2 linked regions of the Homo sapiens genome follow. The protein of the gene in region 1 purifies or fractionates together with the protein of each later gene. This does not show direct contact. Each region holds a gene or a part of one and is shown in the gene's direction. Other genes may lie near its edges.

Region 1 (3,752 bases):
CAGAATGGTATTTTCTAGATTTTCTTCTAGGGTCTTTATAGCTTTAGATTTTACATTTAAGTCTTTAATCCATCTTGTATTGATTTTTGTATGTGGTAAAAAGTGGGGGTCCAGTTTCATTCTTCTGCATATGGTTAGCCAGTTATGCCAGTAGCATTTATTGAATAGGAAGTCCTTTTCCCATTGATTGTTTTTGTCAGCTTCATTGAAGATCAGACAGTTGTAGGTGTGTAGCTTTATTTCTGGGTTCTCTATTCTGTTTCATTTGTTAATGATTCTCATTTTGTACCAGTACCATGCTGTTTTGGTTACTGTAGGCTTGTAGTATAGTTTGAAGTCTGGAAGTATAATGCCTCCAGCTTTGGTCTTTTTGCTTAGAATTGTTTTGGCTATCCAGGCCCTTTTTGCTTCCAAATGCATTTTCAAATGGCTTTTTCTGATTCTGTGAAAAATGTTGGTAGTTTGTATATAGGAATAACATTGAATCCGTAAATTGTTTTGGGCAGTATGACTATTTTAACAATATTGACCCTTCCTATCCATGAGCATAGAATGTTTTTCTGTTTGTTTGTGTTGTCTCTGATACAGTGTTTTATAATTCTCATTGTAAAGCTCTTTCACCTCCCTGTTTAGCTGTATTCCTAGGTATTTTATTCTTATTGTGGCTATTGTGAGTGGGATTGCATTCTTGATTTGACTCTCAGCTTGGACATATTTCTATGCATTTCATACGATTGAAATGCTGCTAGAAATGCTGATTTTTGTACATTGATTTTGTATCTTGAACCTTTGCTGAAGTGGTTTATCAGATCTAGAAGCTTTGGGCAGAGACTACAGGGTTTTCTAGGCTTATATTGTCTGTGAATATTGTCTGTCAAACATAGTTTGACTTCCTCTCTTCCTATTTAGATGACTTTTATTTCTTTCTCATGCATGATTGCTCTGGCTAGGACTTCAATACTATATTGAGTAGGAGTGGCAAGAGTGGGCATCCTTGTCTTGTTCCGCTTCTCAAGAGGAACGCTTCCAGCTTTTGTCAATTCATTATGATGTTGGCTGTGGGATTGTCAGAGTTGACTGTTACTATTTTGTGGTATGTACCTTTGATGTCTGGTTTGTTGAGGGTTTTTAACATGAAAAGATGTTAAATTTTATCAAAAGCCTCTTCTGCATCTATTAAGATGATCTTTTTTTAAAGTTTGGTTTATGTGATGAATCACATGTATTGATTTGCATATGTTGAATCAATCTTGCTTCCCAGGGATAAAGCCTACTTGATTGTGGTGAATTCATTTTTTTGCGGGGCAGGGGGGAGGGGGGGTGGGTATTGCAGGGAGCTCCCAACAGGAAACAATGTGGTGGATTAGCTTTTTGATATACTGCTGGATTTGGTTTGCTAGTATTTTGTTTAGGATTTTTGCATCTATGTTCATCAGTGATATTGGTCTGAAGTTTTCTTTTTCTGTTGTCTCTCTGCCAGGTTTTGATGTCAGAATGATGCTGACTTCATAGAATGAATTAGGGAGGAGTCCCTCCTCCTCAAGTTTTTGGAATAATTTCAGTAGGATTGGCACCAGCTCTTCTTTATATGTCTGGTAGAATTTGGCTGTGAATCCATCTGGTCCAGGGCCTTTTCTGGTTGGTAAGTTTTTTTTTAATTACTGATTAAATTTTGGTACTTGTTATTGGTCTGTTCAATTTCATCCTGGTTTAATCTTGGGAGTTTGTATGATTCCAAGAGGTTATCAATTTTGTGTAGGTTTTCTAGTTTGTGTGCATAGTGGTGTTTGTAATAGTCTCTGATTTTTGTTTGTATTTTTATGGGGTCAGTGGTAATATCCCCTTTGTTATTTTTGATTGTGTTTATCTGGATTTTCTCTTTCTTTAGTAGTCTAACTAGTGGTCTACCAGTCTTATTTATTCTACAAAGAACCAACTTTTGGTTTCATGGATCTTTTGTATGGTTTCCCTTATCTCCATTTTGTTCAGTTCAGCTCTAATTTTGGTTATTTCTTTTCTTCTACTAGCTTTGGGGTTGGTTTGCTCTTGTTTTTCAAGTTCCTCTAGGTGTGATGTTAGGTTAATTGGAGATATTTCTAACTTTTTGATGTGGGCATTTAGTGCTATAAACTTTCCTCTCAACACTGGTTTAATTGTGTCCCAGAGATTTTGGTATGTTGTATCTTTGTTCTTATTAGTTTCAAAAAACTTCTTGATTTCTGTCTTAATTTTGTTGTTTACCAAAAAGTCATTCAGGAACAGGAGCATGTACTAACAAGCACATGTAAGTGTGTGGTTTTGAGAGCTCTTGGTATTGATGTCTATCAATAAACTATTTTTGGATTAAGATATGTACACTGTTTTTATACATAATGCTGTCACACACTTAGTAGATCACAGTATAGTGTAAACATATCTTTTATATGCACTGAGAAACCAAAATATTTGTTTGACTCACTTTATTAGGGTGGCCTGGAACTGAATCTGTAATATCTATGAGGTATGCCTGTGCTATAATTTTTCCATGTGATTTAATGGAGTTTTCCAGAAGTGAAATGAGTTACCCAAGGTCATGGAGTTAGCAAATGATAAAGATGGTTTTTTAATTTTAATTTTAATTTTTTAGTATCTGCCTCTGTAAAGATGGGTTTTAAGTTTACATCGGATGAGTGTAAGGCCTGTGATTGTGACACTAGACAACTGTGAATAGTCAATAGCCTGCTGGCTCCTCCGACCTACCATCTGAATCCTCTGAATGTCTATATCAGGGTCAAGATGAAGGAAATGGTCTGACATTTTCAGACCATTTCTTTGTTGGTGCAAGTATAGCCTAAACATTATGAAGAGAGAATTGGTAATATTTATGCACAGATTGAATTATCTGTATTTCTACTTTTATTGGCTTTCCCAAGGAATAAATAAATAAATACTCAAGGATTTAGTTATCATTATGTAACTAATAGTGAATTTCTACAATAGGGAAAAACTGAAACCACCAAGCTTGTCAACAACTGGTGATTAATTGGCAGAGTAATCTACCAATCTATGAAATTTTTGAAAATATTTAGGAGTACAGGAAAATATTTATTGTAAATGTTAAACTTAAAAATAGTCACAGGATTATCCACTATATAAAAATATATATGTACATAAGAAAAAGTCTACTAGAATATATGCACAAATGTTAGCATAGGTTGACAAGATTAACAATTATTTTTAAATTTAATTGTCATTTTCATATTTTTACAAAATTTATGCACTAAGCATGAGTTGCTCTTTTATTAGTACAAGAGCAAAAAATGACATCTTGAAAAGAAATCTTTTTCTTTTTTTTTTCCTACGGAGAGAAGTAAATGATATAAATTGATGAGGGGTCCCAGGAATAGGACAAGGCCAAGAGTATATTGTAAAGTGGGAAGAGGCAAGGAAATAGAACTAGAGAAGAAAATGTTAGGACAATCTACAGGCTTTGCTTCTCTCCCACTTTCCCACTTTCTCATCCCAACCAAACAACTCTGGGAATATTCCTAGACCCAGTCAAGACTTACTCAGAGCCTCTCACAGTCAGCTCAGCTCCTGAAATTTCCCTTCCCATTATGCCCCTCTGCTAGCACTGTAAGGGTATCTAGAGAGAGTGCCTTGGTGATGGGAATAAGCCCAAGATGTATCGTGGCTCTGAGGCCCAGGAAAAGCTGTGGGCTTCACCATCTGGCATACCTGGCTCTGAATTCACTTCCTTTCAAATCTTGTTT
Region 2 (3,652 bases), on another chromosome or scaffold:
AACATGGTGAAACCCTGTCTGTATCAAAAATCCAAAAAATTAGCCAGGTGTGATGGTGCACACCTGTGGTCCCAGCTATGGAGGAGGACGAAGCCAGAGGATTGCTTGAGCAGCCCAGGAGGCGGAGTTTGCAGTGAGTCGAGATCATGCCCCTGCACTCCAGCCTGGGCAACACAGTGAGACCCCATGTCACATAAAAATAATAAATAAATAAATATCCTAACAACTTATAACCACTCAGCAGTTCCATATTAAAGCAAAAGAAATGCACAGATCTGTCAGTTATGGATTTGCCAGAGATGTACTATCACATGTTATTGTTTTAGAGCTGGAGCTGGCAAACGTTTTTTGTTAACGGGGAAAATTATAAATATCTGGGGCTTTGTGGGTCATAAGGTCTCTAGCTTTCTGATTCAGCTCAGCCGTTACCGTCTGAAAGCAGTTACAGACAGTATGTACGTGAATGAATGTGCCAGGATTTGGCCTGAGGGTTGCAGTTTGCTGAATTCTGTTTTATTATTATTATTATTATTATTTTTAGAGACAAGGTCTCACTCTGTCACCCAAGTTGGAGTGCAGTGGCACCATCATAGCTCACTGTAACCTGTAACTCCTGGGCTCAAGTGATTCTCCTGCCTCAGACTCCCCAGAGCCAGGACTACAGGCATGCACCTCCACACCTGACTAATTTTTAAAAATTTTTGTAGAGATGAGGCTTGCTATGTTACCCAGACTGGCCTCAAACTCCTGGCCTCAAGCGGTCCTTCCTCCTTGGCCTCCCAAAGTGTTGAAATTATAGGCTTGAGCCACCACATCCAGCCCTGAACCCCATTTTAGACACTGATCACTATAGTTTTGAAAGACTCTGATACTCAAAAGAAGTAAAGAATTCTGTTTTATTCTAATTTGCATTTTTTAGCTTATATAATTCAGATTTATCAAAACTGGCATAAAACACTTATCTTTATAATATTTTAAAATGGGCTAATTGAACTCTCTACTTCCCCAAAGACAACTTATTGTAAAGAGTCTAAAGAGAGCAAATTACTGCTCGGGTTTAAGAGCTTTGTCCCTTTGTCCATTAGAGGCCTTTCATTCCTCTGCAGGTTTGTGCATACTGTGAGATTAGATCAGCATCTTACTAGGTTGGTGGAAGAGTAATTGTGGTTTTGCCGTTAAAGTAATGCGAAAACCGCAATTACTTCTGCACCAGCCTAATATTTGTGGACTTCCAGGAGGTGGCACAAGTTGAAGATATAAGAAAGTTTTCAAATGTTGCAACACCCCCCAAAAGTCTGCATTATATAAATCACTTGGCCTCATCCTATCATGAGTAATTTGGAGGTGCCTCCTATTTAGACCACCAGTGAAGATGATTTTATCTTGGTGTCTAGTGATCTAACGATTCTTAGTGCTAGTTCTTCTATATATTTAACCTAGAAAACGTTGGGCCCAGTTTTATTCCCTTGTGTCTGATGCAGTAATTTTCTCCCATTAATTCCTTTATTAAGAACCTAGTGTGAGTTTGGAACCCTGTGGATCCTAATTTTTTTTTTTTTTTTTTTTGAGACGGAGTCTCTCTCTGTCGCCCAGGCTGGAGTGCAGTGGTACAATCTCGGCTCACTGCAAGCTCCGCCTCCCGGGTTCACGCCATTCTCCTGCCTCAGCCTCCCGAGTAGCTGGGACTACAGGCGCCCGCCACCGCGCCCGGCTAATTTTTTGTGTTTTTAATAGAGACGGGGTTTCACCACGTTAGCCAGGATGGTCTCCATCTTCTGACCTCGTGATCTGCCCACCTCAGCCTCACAAAACCCTGGGATTACAGGCGTGAGCCACCGTGCCCAGCCTACCCTAATTTTTTAAATTTAAAATTTCCATGAAACATGTCTGATTTTTAAAGCAACTTTTAATCATAAAAATGGAATGGTTCAGTTTCTTGTTCTTTGAGCCAAAAGTCAATTTTTAAGGAGACTTTTCTTCTTTGCCTCAGAAATTTTTAAGAACTATGGCGCTGAAAAGTATGGACCTCATTCCGTTTGTCTAATTCAGAAATCAGCATTCGTTATGGAGAAGTGTGAGAGGAAGCTGAGTTACCCAGACTGGGGAAGCGGATGCTATCAGGTAAGCTTATGTTTGTTATTAGTTGTGCCAAATATTATGTGATTTTATCTCTTTTATGGTTTTGTATTTTAAATTATATTTTCATATTTTATGTCATTAATTTACTGATCAATACTGTATCTTGTTTATGTAAATATTAGTTTGGATGCTTATGTTTTATGAAAATATTGTCATTTCTTTAGAAAAAGTGCCTCTTAAAAATATATATGTAATTACTGTAATGTTACTTCTGGGCATATATTCTGAGGAAGTAATGGTAAATAGGTAATTTTGTTCTTGAGCAAATATTACTTTGTAATGGAAAACATGTCAATTTTATTTCAAAAGGTCTGAGGACCTCATGGGTTATAAGAATTAGTAAATCAGGCTGGACGTGGTGGCTCACGCCTGTAATCCCAGCACTTTGGGAGGCTGAGCCAGGAGGATTGCTTGAGCCCAGGATTCGAGACCATCCTAGGCAACAAAGCGAGACCCTGTCTCCAAAAAATAAAGGAAAAAGAATAAATCAGTTGCTGATTAATAATAGAGTGTTTTTTCCTTTGTAATTAGAAATCCAAAAAGGGCAAACTACAATTTTTTTTCCTTTTTCTTTTTCTTTTTTTTGAGACAAGGTCTTGCTCTGTCAGCTAGGCTGGAGTGCTGCTGCAGTCACGGCTCATTATATCCTCTACCTCCTGGGTTCAAGCGACCTTCCCACCTCAGCCTCCTGAGGAGCTGGGACTACAGTGTGCACCACACACCCGACTAAGTGTTTGATTTTTTGTAGAGAAGAGGTCTCACTATGTTGCCCAGGCTAGATTAGAACTTCGGGGCCCAAGCAATCCTCTTGCCTTGGCCTCCCAAAGTACTGGGATTATAGATGGCGGCCACCATGCCTCGCCTACTATTTCCTTAATTATCTTATTTGCACATCTGATATTATATGACATCACCTTATTAAGGACTTATAAAGATGTAGCCATTCTGTGACTTAGGAGCATCCAATGGAATGAATCTTCTGCACCCTACAAATGGATGTCAGGGAGGACAGCGTAAGCCTGAGAAATGCAGAATCAGCATTCCTGTGCCATTTCAGCTGCAAGAGCTAAACGGACCTTTAGAACTGGAAATTTAACTCTTATCATTAGTTACTTATCAAATTAACGTTTTTTTTGGTAACTGCTTTTCTTCTTTTCTGTTTTTTTTTGAGACAGGGTTTTGCTCTGTCACCCAGGCTAGAGACAATGGTGCGATCACGCTCACTGCAGCCACGAACTCCCAGGCTCAGGCGATTCTCCCACCTCAGCCATCTGAGAAGCTGGGACTACAGGTGCACACCACCACACCTGGCTGATTTTTCTTATTTTTTGTAGAGACAGGCTTTTGCCATGCTACTCAGGCTGGTCTTGAACTCCTGGGTTCATGTGATTCACCTGCCTCAGCCTCCCAAAGTGCTGGGACTACAGACATGAGCCACTTTGCCTGACCTGGTAATAGCACTATCAAGATATATTTTACATACCATACAATTTATGTAAAATTAACTTTTTTT

Evidence for each region. Proteins that work in one complex are often made in the same cells at the same time.
Region 2: the proteins of WFDC11 (region 1) and LMLN purify together in Homo sapiens (affinity purification with mass spectrometry; one large-scale study listed by BioGRID and IntAct). This does not show direct contact.

What each region holds. Positions count from the first base shown.
Region 1 is NC_000020.11:45,668,068-45,671,819, reverse strand, and holds the start of WFDC11 (protein WFDC11 precursor), read left to right. Parts: upstream 1-1,580; 5' UTR 1,581-1,642; intron 1,643-3,752.
Region 2 is NC_000003.12:198,022,668-198,026,319, forward strand, and holds part of LMLN (leishmanolysin-like peptidase isoform 1 precursor), read left to right. Parts: intron 1-1,990; coding exon 1,991-2,121; intron 2,122-3,652. UniProt on the Homo sapiens protein: Metalloprotease.